Linked DNA regions of Homo sapiens. The protein of the gene in region 4 purifies or fractionates together with the protein of the main gene of each other region. This does not show direct contact. Each region holds a gene or a part of one and is shown on either strand. Other genes may lie near its edges.

What was found. Proteins that work in one complex are often made in the same cells at the same time.
Region 1: the proteins of LYZL2 (region 4) and TMEM67 purify together in Homo sapiens (affinity purification with mass spectrometry; 2 studies listed by BioGRID and IntAct, with this or other methods). This does not show direct contact.
Region 2: the proteins of LYZL2 (region 4) and ERO1B purify together in Homo sapiens (affinity purification with mass spectrometry; 2 studies listed by BioGRID and IntAct, with this or other methods). This does not show direct contact.
Region 3: the proteins of LYZL2 (region 4) and CERCAM purify together in Homo sapiens (affinity purification with mass spectrometry; 2 studies listed by BioGRID and IntAct, with this or other methods). This does not show direct contact.

Annotation. Positions count from the first base shown.
Region 1 is NC_000008.11:93,782,394-93,785,893, forward strand, and holds part of TMEM67 (meckelin isoform 1 precursor), read left to right. Parts: intron 1-1; coding exon 2-67; intron 68-2,828; coding exon 2,829-2,985; intron 2,986-3,500. UniProt on the Homo sapiens protein: Required for ciliary structure and function. Part of the tectonic-like complex which is required for tissue-specific ciliogenesis and may regulate ciliary membrane composition.
Region 2 is NC_000001.11:236,233,459-236,236,958, forward strand, and holds part of ERO1B (ERO1-like protein beta precursor), read right to left. Parts: intron 2,941-3,500; coding exon 2,820-2,940; intron 2,378-2,819; coding exon 2,331-2,377; intron 1-2,330.
Region 3 is NC_000009.12:128,427,357-128,430,856, reverse strand, and holds part of CERCAM (inactive glycosyltransferase 25 family member 3 isoform a precursor), read right to left. Parts: intron 2,556-3,500; coding exon 2,436-2,555; intron 2,101-2,435; coding exon 2,024-2,100; intron 1,928-2,023; coding exon 1,821-1,927; intron 1-1,820. UniProt on the Homo sapiens protein: Probable cell adhesion protein involved in leukocyte transmigration across the blood-brain barrier. Does not express any beta-galactosyltransferase activity in vitro.
Region 4 is NC_000010.11:30,619,754-30,623,253, forward strand, and holds part of LYZL2 (lysozyme-like protein 2 precursor), read right to left. Parts: intron 1-3,500.

The DNA.
Region 1 (3,500 bases), on a different chromosome or scaffold from region 4:
GCTTTGTCCAGACACAGAGACAAGGCTAAATGCTGCTTATTCATTTGGAACAACCTACCAACAAAATGTAAGTTTGAACGATATTAGTCTATATTTTAGCTTTATTTTTCAAAATATCATGTCAGCAGTAATTGGAATAATACTTAAATTTTTGAGATTGGAAATTTTTTATTCTTGGTTTTTTTTTTTTTTTTTTTGAGATGGAGTTTTGCTCTTGTTGCCCAGGCTGGAGTGCAGTGGTGCAATCTCAGTTCACCACAACCTCCGCCTCCCAGGTTCAAGTGATTCTCCTGCCTCAGCCTCCCGAGTAGCTGGAATTACAGACATGTGCCACCACGCCCAGCTAATTTTTTGTATTTTTAGTAAAGACAGGGTTTCTCCATGTTGATCAGGCTGATCTTGAACTCCCCACCTCAGATGATCTGCCCTCCTCAGCCTCCCGAAGTGCTGAGATTACAGGCATGAGCCACCGTGCCTGGCCGGAAATGTTTTTAATAGTGAAGAATAATTTCACTATTTAATATAATTTTTTATTACCTGGGTACATAAAAGCTTAATTTAAGTGGCATAAACAGAGCACCTTGTTATCTATAGAGTTTTTTGTTTTTTGAGACAGAGTCTCGCTCTGTTGCCCAGGCTGGAGTGCAGTGGTGCAATCTCAGCTCACTGCAATCTCTTGCCTCCTGGGTTCAAGCAATTCTCGTGCCTCAACCACCTGAGTAGCTGGGACAACAGGCATGTACCACCACACCCAGCTAATTCTTGTGTTTTGCATAGAGATGGGGTTTTGCTGTGTTGACCACGCTTGTCTCAAACTCCTGACCTCAACTGATCCACCAGCCTTGGCCTCCCAAAGTGCTGGGATTACAGGTGTGAGCCACCTCGTCCGGCCTAGAGTCTTAAACATCATATAATATTACATCTTCATAATAAATTGTTTATCTGCTTCTAGGCTTATAGGTCTTAAAAAGTAATGCTTACTTCTGAGCATTTTGAAATAAAGTAAAAATACTACTTTTTTTAAATGACTAATAAAAAGTTACTCCCTTCTTCTACCCGCTCATAACAAATAAAAATAATTCCTTCATCTTCTTCCATTCTTTTCTTTCTCCTTCCTTCTCTGACTTTCCTTACTTTGATACCTATTTTGAAATTACATTATTTTACTAAGGAATATTATGAGCCATTCAATACTTGAAAAACATGCATGTATTAGTCCGTTCTCACGCTGCTAATAAAAACACATCCGAGACTGGGTAATTTACAAAGGAAATAGGTTTAATTGACTCACAGTTCACTATGGCTGAGGAGGCCTCAGGAAACTTACAATCATGGTGGAAGGGAAGCAAACATGTCCTTTTTCACGTGGTGACAGGAAGAGAAGTACTGAGCAAAAGGGGGAGAAGCCCCTCATAAAACCATCAATCTCATGAGAACTCACTCACTATCATGAGAACAGCATGAGGGTAACTGCCCCTATGATTCAATTACCTCCCTCCGGGTCCTTCCCATGACACATGGGGATTATGGGAACTACAGTTCAAGATGAGATTTGGGTGGGGACACAGCCAAACCATATCAATTCATTAGTCTGTAAAAGTACATCTTGATAAAGTTCCACGCACAACCATAGAACAAAACCATAACAAAAAATACCATTATGGAAAGTAGATTGGAAGAATCTACTAACAGTGGTTACCTCTGGATAGTGGGGTTAGAAATTATTTTTTTCTTTTTTATAATTTCCAAATTTTCTACCATGAACATGAATTTACTTCTTTTGTCAGAAATGATTTACACGTTGTTGTTGCTGTTGTTGTTAAAATAAATGTTATTGTGCTTCTAACATAGGCCAGAAAGATCAACACTTATGTAATGCCTATCTGTGTGCTCAGCATTTTATCGTTATTATCCCATTTGATTCATAAAATAACTATATGAGATACATAGTATCTGTGCTTCACAGATGAGGAAATTATGCCGTGTAATTAGGTAATTTACTCAAAGACTTGTGTCACATAAACTGTGGAGCCAATGTTCTATCATCAGGTTTAAAAAGCATTTTTATTTCTTTGAACCTGGCTAACTCTCAAGTCCTTCATAGACTAGTGGGCAAAACAGTTATATAGACAAAGAATTGCAAAGAATGTGATAAGTGTCATTCTATAGGTATGTACAAGGTACTGATTCCTGGGGAAGTATAGAAAGGCTTCACAAAGTAAGTGATACTTGGATTTGTATAATGAATATGAGTTTTCCAGAAGAACACAGTGGGGAAGGAAATATCAGACAGAAATCACATTTGTAATGACAGAGAGACATACAGTAGTATGGCATATTTAGAAACTACAAGTAGATTAGTATGAATGGACCACCATAGACTGATAGGGAGTAATGAGAGATAAGCCTGGCTTGGTTAATGGAAGCCAGATCATATACATCATTGTACAGCAGGAGAAAAAATTGGGAATTTATCCCGTAGGACAGTAGTTTTAAACCTTTTCACTGATGTACCCTTAATATTGAGAATGAAGGTATACCTCCTTCATCTGAGTTGAAGCTCAAGAAGTTCTCAAAATTCTCAAAGCAGTACTTTACTGTTAGTGGTTTTGGTCCTTATAAAATAATCATAGTATTCATGTTTTGGAAGACAAATGAAAATGCATATAAACAAGGTAGTATAAAGACATTTTGCAAAACTAGAAAAACACTCTGAAGATAATAAATATGCTTGCTAATTTTCAATTGTGATCTTTTATTTTATTTTTTACTTTTTAGTACTTTAAGTTGCTGTTTTATGTGCTTTTATTTTTAATTTTACTTTTCAGTGTGAGATTCCTATCTCTAAGATCTTAATTGACTTTCCCACTCCTATATTTTATGATGTGTACCTTGAATATACTGATGAAAATCAACATCAATATATTTTGGCTGTGCCTGTGTTAAACCTAAATCTTCAACATAATAAGATATTTGTGAACCAAGGTAAGACATCCATACATACCACTCTTTTCCCTGAGCAGAAATCAACAAATAAGTTAACCTACATGATAATTTAATAAACCACTGATTATAAGAAAGGTCATGAATTCTCTCTTATGTGGTTCTATACAGTGTGCCAAAAAATGAAACAATAAATTGCTGGTGGACTTAGAAACTGTTGCTAATTTTATTGCCAGACATATTGTTAAGAAATTATACTGTTGCTGAGGGTATATCCTGAGAAACATTAGTAGAACCGTAAATTGGGGCTTTTTCGTCAAGCTGTCCCGAATATGCTTTTTTGGACAAATTAGTTTCTTTTGTTGTTATTCATGTTATAAAATTCTGCTTTTTCAGGTAATTTGCAGGGGAAAGCCTTCCAAATTTATGAAAAGTTCAATCAGAAGACATTCAAGTCCAAGGCACGGTGGCTCACGCCTATAATCGCAGCACTTTGGGAGGCCAAGACGAGAGAATTGCTTGAGCCTAGAAATTGAAGACCAACCTAGGCAACATAA
Region 2 (3,500 bases), on a different chromosome or scaffold from region 4:
GTGGTGACCGGCACCTTGTCATCCCAGCTGCTCAGGAGGCTGAGGCAGAGAACTGCTTGAACCCAGGAGGCGGAGGTTGCAGTGAGCCGAGATCACACCACTGCACTCCAGCCTGAGTGACAGAGTGCGACTCTGTCTCAAGAAAAAAAAAAAAAGATTTGCACATTTTAAAATACAATAACATCAGAAAGCAACTAAAAAGTCATAAAGACCACTATTTTCAATAATTAATTAATTACTACATAAAGTTGCTCCTTTAATCATTATGCACACAATCCTCTCTGAACATTACTGTTTCCAACCTGGAATATTTTTCTCTTTTAAATTACTGCTCCTCAGCAGAGACAGGCCTTAGTAAGAGTATATCCCAAACTGTAATCAGTGAAACCCTTGGGCAAGGTGCTGCTTCCAGGAGGCCTAGAGGTGAGGAAGAGGCCAGAGGTTGGGCTCTAGGGCAACACAGCAGCTCTGCCTATCAGCTTTATTATGTAGGTTCTGAAATAAGATTTCATTTTTGGACAAAAGTTCCTATTGCTCAAAACCTGTTAGAAAATAGTTGTATAAGCCTAGGGGTTATGACTCAGAAATGTGGAAGAAAGAGTTAAGAAGATTAAAGAACTATTAATCAACCAATTTCAATGGAGATAGCAGGTAAATAGCAACAGCAAGAGCTATTAATTACTTCATAGAGTACTCCTATAACAGCTAGGAACCATTCTCTTTACCTAGTCTTGTCTTCTTTCATATTTCATTTTTCTTCTTTTCTCCTCTTCCCTTCCTCTTTTTCTATGTAGTAGTTTCCTTTTCCTCATCTTTTCAGCAGTGTTATGTCTCTGATATATCACTAACATGGAAATGAAGTGTTTCTTAGGACTTGATGGTTTTCTTAAGTGAAAAAATTGTATTTTCTGCTTTAAAAGTATTAAGTGGCTGTAGAAAAGGTCTGGAAGAACACCTTTCAAACTCTGTACTATGGAATAGAAGAGCTTTCCCTTTTCACTTTATATAACTACTATATTGCTTCAATTTTTATAAAATTTTGTTTAATTAAAACCTTTAAGTTGAAAATAGAAAAGTTGTGAGGCAAAAGTAGTAAAAGAGACAAAGGATAAGAAGCCAGGCACGTCTTTTTCAGGACCAACTTCCTTCTCCAGGCAGTTTCAATGTGAATTTGGGGAAAACAAGTATTTGCCACATTGTGACAGAGTGAGCATGAAAAAGCAGTCTATGCAGTCAACCCTTCCAAGTCTATTTGGTTCTCAGAAAGGTCTAAAGATACAAATTTAGATCAGGAAATCAAATTTCTTAAAACACTCCCCGTCTAAAGAAAACACTGGAATGGCAGGTCAATGACAGAGTTGCTCCCAGGGTTTGGTTCCTCACTGAGAACAGACTGAGGATGTATCCCACTGATGACAGTAATGCTGTTCCATTGAAATATAACGCCACACACGAGTGTTAACTTAAAATGTTTCTAATAGCCACATTTTTAAAATTCAAAAGTATACACACACTACAACAAAAATATGTTACATGACGCATAGGTTATAGTAGTCTTACCAAAACAATAAGGTTCTGTTTAACAATATAGTTTTTACATCTAAATAAACTAAGATTAAATACAATTTAAAATTCAGTTTCACACTAGCCAAATTTCATGTGTTCCACAGTCCCATGTGGAAACTGGTTACTTTATTGGACAGTACAGATATAGAGCACTGCTAAAGTTTCTAAAATTGTTGTACATTTTTCCTACTGAAAGTGTGGTACATGAGTCGGCACCTGAGGCAGCACCTAGGAGTGTGTTTGGACCTCTCCCAAGAAATACAGAATCAGAAGCTGTATGTTACCAAGGCTCCTGGGTGATGTGTATGCACACTGAAGTCTAGAAGCACTGTTACGAGACACTGGCTGTCAAACTTGGTTGCATACTGGAATCATGTGGAGAGTTTAAAAAATAACAATGCCTGGTGTTCTCATTCCAAGGATTCTGACTTAATTAATATAGCGTAGGGCCTGAGCAACCAGATTTTTTAATAAGTCCCCAGGAAATCTTTGATATATATTGATTACTCACATATTTTAATTATTTTACATAAACTTCCTAGTTTAGGGTCTGGCACAGAGCAGGCATTCAATAAATGACAGTAATTATGTAAAACAACATGCCTAGAGATCTCGAGACTCGACTATGAACTAATCTTACACTTTTTGTTCATCATTCAAATTAAACAAAATATAAAAATGAAAGTTTTTTCAATATGAAGTTTAGTTATAAAGACATTTTATAAACAATGAAAAGCATGAAAATGTACATATGAAAAACCTACCTCGGCTAGGCGCCAGAGGATTTAAAGGACGATAAACAGATCGAGGCCTGAAAAAGAAAGCATAATACCCAAACATAGAATGTTTTAACTTTTATAGTGTATAATTTTATTCCAATAGAAACAAATACTCCCCTCCCCACCCTCTTTTTTTTTTGAGACAGAGTTTCACTTAGTCACCCAGGCTGGAGTACAGTGGCGCAATCTCTGCTCATTGTAACCTCTGCCTCCCGGGTTCAAGTGATTCTCCTGCCTCAGCCTCCCAAGTAGCTGGGATTACAGGCACCTGCCATCATGCCCGGCTAATTTTTTTGTATTTTTAGTTGACACGGGGTTTCACCATGTTGGCCAGGCTGGTCTTGAACTCCTGACCTCAGATGATCCACCCACCTTGGCCTCCCAAAGTGCTGGGATTACAGGCGTGAGCCACAGCACCCGGCCTCTCCCGACCCTCTATCAGTCGTTCCTTCTTCCCCCACCCCCTCCAGTTACTTGAAACAGTTCTCTTCATAGATGCTGTTCCACACTCTCCATGCAGAGGTCCCTTTATAGCCAGTGTAACGCTCTGGGTTCAGCAATAGGTCTACATACTGAGCAGCTGGAGATCTCTCATCTGAACAAGAAAAAATTCATAAAAACCATCCATATTTCACCATTTATCTAAGATTTAACAGTACAAAGCAAACCGGACTACTCAAAGGTAAGAAAAATGTCATGCTTTTCAAGTAATCTCCAACTTAAATGGTATAGTGGTTAGTATACTTGTGACTGTACTTGATGCAAGATTTGTAATAACTTGGACAAATTCCTTAAGAGAAGAAAAAACAACTCTTCCATTTCCTTTGGATACGCAGTGCTCTTTTAAGTAATATAACATCCCCTTCACCTTATTAGAGACATGAATCATTTCTTAAGTTTTAACCACCCAGGATTGAAAAGACCAAACAGAATCATAACCTGCTTTAATATTTCATATGATTTCTTCTCTAAGAATATATCCACCTAACCACGCACTTGGAAACATTTTGTAACATATATTGTATTAAAAATAGAGATTTCCCTGCTACTCTCTGCTTGGACTCATGAAGTAAACGGCTCCATAACTTTGTGATCCAAATCTGATTATTCATAAAGCTATACCATGCTCTAGTTTTTAAAAGTTATATATTACTA
Region 3 (3,500 bases), on a different chromosome or scaffold from region 4:
TTTAGTAGAGATGGGGTTTCACCATGTTGGCCAGGCTGGTCTCGAACTCCTGACCTCAGGTGATCCACCCACCTCAGCCTCCCAAAGTGCTGGGATTACAGGCATGAGCCACCACGCCCAGCCACCTCGGGAGTTCTGAGAGGATAACTATTAGGACATGTCCTAATATGATAAGACAGGGGTGACCCTTGAGGAAAGGGTGGGATGGTAGGGGGCTGCCTGAGGGGGAGGCACTCTAGGAAGAATGTGGGAACATGATAGATACTTCTTGGGCAGAGGCCCAAGCAAAGGATGGATAGCCTATGGTCAAGAGACCTCGGGGGATGTGGTGTCTCACACCTGTAATCCCAGTGCTTTGGGAGGCCAAGGTGGGAGGATTGCTTGAGGCCAGGAGTTCAAGACCAGCCTTGGCAACAGAGAAAAACCCCATCTCTCAAAAAAAAAATTTTTTTTGAGACAGAGTCTCACTGTTGTCGGCCCAGGCTGGAGTGCAATGGCACAATCTCGGCTCACTGCAACCTCTGCCTCCTGGGTTCCAGCAGTTCTCCTGACTCAGCCTCCCAAGTAGCTGAGATTACAGGCACCCACTACCACACCTGGCTAATTTTTGTACTTTTAGTAGAGAGGGGGTTTCACCATGTTGGTTGGCCAGGCTGGTCTCGAACTCCTGACCTCAGGTGATCCATCCATAACCTCCCAGAGTGCTGGGATTACAGGCATGAGCCACCGTGCCCAGTCAAAAATTTTTTTTCATTAGGTGGACATGGTGGTGCATGCCTGTAGTCCGTTATTCAGGAGGCTGAGGCAGGACGGTCACTTGAGGCCAGGAGTTCAAGACCAGCCTAGGCAACAGAGTGAGACCCTATCTCTATGAAAAAAAAACAAAACAAAACATTTTTTTTAATCCGGGTGTGGTGATGCAAGCCTGTAATCACAGCTACTTGGGAGGTGAGGGAGGAGAATCACTTAAAACCTGGGAGGCGGATGTTGCAGTGAGCCAAGATTGCGCCACTGCACTCCAGGCCTGGGCGACAGAGCGAGACTCTGCCTCAAAAAAAAAAAAAAATTCTTTTTAATTAGCTGGATGTGATAGTGCACACCTATAGTCCCAGTTACTCAGAAGGCTGAGGTGGGAGGATTACTTGAGCCCAGGAGTTTAAGGCAGCAGTGAGCCATGTTTGTGGCACCGCACTCCAGCCTGGGCAACAGACGGAGGGCAACAGACGGAGACGCTGTCTCTAAAAAAAAAATAAAAAGAGCTGAGTACTTGAAGCAAATGGCAGCCGACATATGGGGCCATAGGACCCCTGGTGGCTGGAGAAGCCTAGCCTCTGGGTTCCTCGGGGGAACATGGCTGGCCTTTCCTAATCCCCACGCATCAGTAGCTCAAGTCCAGGATGGAGAGTAATAATAAGGGAGACACCTAAGCCTTTGGAAACTATGTGCCCGGCCCTGGCTAACTTCACTAAACTCACAAAACCCTAAGAGAAGGGCACAGTTATCTGCTGTTTATACAAACGGGCTGAGAGATGGGGGTAGCTGGCTGGAGGTCACACATTCAGTAACTGGTAGAGCTGGAACCCAGGCCCTGGAGCCTCAGCCACTGTGCTCTCCTCCTCTGGTGAGCAGCAGGAGGGCATCTTCTCCCACGTGTGTCTGCTCCGGAACTCCCTGAGAGGATATTACTCAGACCCTATTTGGATACTACATGGGACAGGAAACTCATTCAACCTGTCTGCTTTTCCCAGTCCTAGCGGGCTAGGAGATGGACCACACTGCTTCCCCAAGCGCACAGGGCCCCCCCCACCAGGCAGGCTCACCAGCCATCCACAGCGTCCACCACCCTCCCAGAGATCTCCATCTCCCAGAGCGAGGCGAGCATGCGTTCCCGACGGTCAGGCCTGCGAGCCAGGCTGATGACAAAGACCTGGAGGAGGCAGGGGGGTGGGCGGTAAGTGCAAGGGAGCGGAAGAGGAGGGCCCATCCACCTCCTAACAGCGAGCCCACAGGCTGGGGGACTTACCTCGTCAAACCCTATCTTGCTGGGCCTCTTAGAGGGCCGAGTCACATGAGCTGAGGCCTGCATGCGGGGGCCGTCCACTGCAAAGGGAAGCACACCCCAAGCACGAGTCCCTACTGACTCCTGTTAGCAGTCACCCTGAAGTCCTAGCCCCCAGCCTCATTCCTGCCCCCTTTGGCAGAACACCCCACAGGACGGGACCTCAGAGATCACAGGATCCACCTGCCCCCATTGTAGGGATGCTAGACTAAGGCCCAACAGGGAAAGGGACTTTCTCAGAGTCATGGAACGAGTTAGGGACAAAGCTGGAACCCCAAGGCCAATGCCCGCTCCGTCCAGGGCCTAGGGAAAGGGGCACCGTGGGGAGGCAGGGAGCCCCGGCAGCAGGTGGGTGGAACAGTTCCCCAGCCCTCACCTAGTGCTTCTAAGATCAGGTGGATGAAGTTGACCCTCTCGTCTTCCAGCCCCTGGTGGGATTTCACCGGCACATTCATGTACCCATAACGGTGCTCATTGCACACGTGGACGGAGACCCCTGCAGAGACAGGCTGAGTGAGAGCTGCAGTGGAGGGTGGGGCTCTCAGAACCCAGCTGAAAGGTCCTAGGCCCAGCACTGCCAGTGACCCAACATGTCAGTCTTCTCTGGGACTCAGTTTCCCCACCTGTGGGACCAGAGGGAGAAAGGGCTTGGCTCACACAATATCTAAGGGGTCTTTCTACTGAAATGGTTCATTCATTCAATATACCTGTCCAGGGCACCCGCTGGGAGCCAGGGTTACGGCAGTGAGCAAGACTGAGTCCCTGCCCTCAGGGCATCAAGGTGAGGCAGGAGCAGACAAACTCCTACCCATCACAGCCACAGGGTGCCAGTGAGCCCCACTGCTCTGTCTCCTAAATCCCCCCACCTCTCCTGATCCCCACCACCCCACCTGGATCCAAGGGCCATCGCCTTTTCCCCACACCCCTCCACTTCACCTCACACCCTCTGGGGCTCCTCTCCACGATGTCTTTCACCTGGCAGCCAGAGTGGCCTTCCCCCGGCTTCAATATTTGTTACCTTTTTTTTTTTTTTGAGATGGAGTCCTGCTCTGTCACCGAGGCTGGAGTGCAATGGTGCGATCTTGGCTCATTACAACCTCTGTCTCCCAGGTTTGAGCAATTCTCCTGCCTCAGCCTCCTGAGTAGCTGGGAATACAGGTGTGCACCACCACATCCAGCTAATTTTTGTATTTTTAGTAGAGACGGAGTTTCGCCATGTTGGCCAGGATGGTCTCGAACTCCTGGCCTGAAGTGATCCACCCACCCTAGGCCATCCAAAGTGCTGGGATTACAGGCGTGAGCCACTGCACCCGGCCAATATTTGTTACCTTTATTATAATTATCCTCAGGGGCAGGCACACAGTGCCAATTAAAAAGCTAACCTAGGCGGGGCACAGTAGCTCACGCCTGTAATCCCAGCACTTTGGGAAGCCCAGGCAGG
Region 4 (3,500 bases):
CCAAAATGGCACATGTATACATATGTAACAAAGTTGCACGTTGTGTACATGTACCCTAAAACTTAAAGTACAATAATAAAAAAATTAAAAAAAAGAAAAGAAAATTTAGATATTAAAGAGACAGCTCTTTCAAATACTAAAAAATGGCATGTTGCAAGTGTTAAAAAGCTGGAAAAATTCACAAAAATCTGCAAAAAGGAAATATTTCTGCAATTTTCTGTTTGGCACAGATAATATGATTTTCCTACATATTTTTGTGTTTGTATTTATCGATTGCTTCTTCATATGCCAAAAATTGTGTAATATCATCTTCTACAAGGAGAATAGAAGGATCGTTTAGAATTTCCTCAAGGGCAGAGGTTGGTAAACTGCAGCGTGAGGCCACTGCTGTTTTTGTAAATAAAGTTTTATTAGAACACACAAAAAATAAAAATAAAAAACAGATCCCTGGGTGGAGATTTAAGATGCTAATGAGACATGAGATGTATGGACAATCATGTACAGCTACTGAGTAAGTGCACCAAGAGGATCGCCCAGAACATGCTTACTAGCAACACCTCTTCCCACCCGCTTATGAGTAACCATGGAAGTCTCCATTAAAGGGAGCATCCCTGGTACCAGTCTTTGTTGTCCAATCTTCACGAGCAGCCTGCCTTGATATCTTCCTCTCTCAGGGTGTACTGTCTATTCTGCACCTAACTTTCAAAATAGTCTTTTTCTTTCTCAATAAATTACTTTATGCTACATCTCCTTTGCTATGTGTCTTTTGTTGAAATTCTTTTAAACTAAGAAGACAGGACCCGAGGACTCACAAGAGCCGTCAACACATACACTGTGTGTGTATTCAATAAAAAATTATTCCATGCGCAGAGGCAGAGAAATGTGACACATACTAAGAAAAAGATCGGTCAAGGGCAAGACTCAGAAAGGACAGTTGATTGCATTAGCTGATAAGAAATTTAAATCACTGCTTATAAATATGATGATTTATATCAAGGACTTAAAGAGAAACAGGAATAAAATGAAATGAAAGAAACAAAATTATGATGCCAAATAAAAAACACAGTATCTGAAAAGAAACATCCAATCAATAAGTTTAACAGATTAGCATTAAAAAAAAAAGTAACAGCCGACTTGAAGACATAATAATGGAAACTATTGAAAATAAAATACAGGGAGGGAAAAATACTAAAAAACGAGGAACCTCAATGATGAATGGTACAGCATCAGCGATCGAACATACATGCCGTTAGAATTCTTGAAGGAGAAAAGAAAAGCATTAGAAGAAAGAATGGCTGAAATGTTTCCAAATTTAATGAAAATTATAAACTCAGGGATACAAAATGTTAATGAATACCAAGTAAGATAAACACAAATATCACACATCATCGAATTGCTGAAAATGAGTGACAAAGAGAAAATCTTAAAAACAACTAGAGAAAAAAAACACATATTACATACCGGGGACAAACAGAAGGAAATCACTGGTTTCCCATCATACACAAGGCAAGCCAGAAAGCAACCGAATATCTTTAAAAACTTGAAGCCAAGTGTGGTGGCTCACAACTGTAATCCCAGCACTTTGGGAGGCTGAGGTGAGAGGATTGCCTGAGCCCAGGAGTTTGAGACCAGCGTGGGTAACATGACGAGACCCCATCTCCACAATTTTTTTTTTTTTAAATCAGCCAGGCATGGTGGCACGTGCCTGTAGTCCCAGCTGCTCAGGAGGCTGAGGCATGAGAATTACTTGAGTCCAGGAGGTCAAGGCTGCAGTGAGTTGTGATCATGCCACTACACTCACAGTGTTGTTCTGAGACAGAGCACGACCCTGTCTCAAAACAACAACAATAACAACTTGAGGTGGAAAAGAACTGTCAGCCCAGAATTTTATATGTAAAGAAAATATTCCTCAAAATCAAAATAAGTACAGATATTTTCAGACAGAAAGAATGCTTGCTAATAGACCTCTACTCTAAAACAAAACAAAACAAAGTTAAAGAAAGTTCTTTAGGCTGAAGGAAAACGATATCAATTAACTGTCTGCTCAAGTAAATCCACCAAAGGAATGAAGAGTATTGGAAATAATAATGTGTAATAGATACTATAAAACTTTTTTCTCATTTAAAAATTTATTTAAAAGACAATTGTTTAAAGAAAAAATTATAAAAATGCATTGTGAGGTACACAAATATAGAAGAAAAATGCATGACAATACAGCACAAAGGATGGAATAGGAAAAATTGAAGTATACTGTTAAGAAACTCATACGTTACATATGAAGTGGTGTGTTACTTGAAGGTAAGATGTAATAAGATAATGATGCCTATTGGAAACCCTACAGTAACAACTAAAAACAAAATAGAAGTATAGCTAACAAACCAATGGAGGAAATAAAAGAGAATACTAAAAAATATTCAATAAATTCAAAAGAAGGCAGAAAAAATGGAACCAAGAATAGATGGCACAAACAGAAAACAAAATAGCAAGATGTAATTTAAAACTAGCCATATCAGCCGGGTGCAGTGGCTCACTTCTGTAATCCCAGCACTTTGGGAGGCCAAGGTAGGCAGATCACAAGGTCAGGAGATCGAGACCATCCTGGCTGACACAGTGAAACCCCATCTCTACTAAAAAAAATACAAAAAATTAGCTGGGCGTGGTGGCATGTGCCTGTAGTCCCAGCTACTCAGGAAGCTGAGGCAGAAGAATCACTTGAACCCAGGAGGCAGAGGGTGCAATGAGCCAAGATCGCGCCACTGTACTCCAGCCTGGGCGACAGAGCAAAGCTCCAACTCAACAAAACAAAAAAAGAAAAAAAAAGAAAAAGAAAAAACTAGTCATATCAGTAATCACATTAAATGCAAACGGCCTAATCATGGCATAACCCACAGGCCAATCTCCCGTTTCTGTAAATAAAGTCTTATTGGAACACAGCCAGGCCCATTCATTTATATACTTTCTATGGCTGCTTTCACACTATGTCATGGTTGGGTAGTTGCAATCGAAACCATATGGCCTGAAAAGCCTAAAATATTTATCATTTGGCCCTTTAGGCAAACATTTGCTGACCTATGTTTTAATCACTCCTACTGAAAAACAGTAATTACCAGAATGGATATAAAAGCAACACATAACTCTACATGACTTATAAATAATTCACCTTAAATATAAAGACAGATGGATTAAAAGTAGAAGGATGGAAAGAAACATACTATACAAATATTTCCTCAAAGAAAGCGAGAGTGGGCTATACTGCTATCAAACAAAGTAGATTTCTGGATGAGAAATAGCACCAGAGTTAAGGAGAAACTTGGACTCCAGTGATAAAAGAGTCAATTCACCACAAGGACATAACAACCCTCAAAGAATATATGCCTAAGAACAAAGCTTCAAAAATGGACGAGACTGAAAGGTGAAATAGACAAAGCTAAAATGATAGTTGCAAATTTCAATATGTATTTCTCACCGTATAGTAGAACAAGTAAGAAAATTAGAAAGGA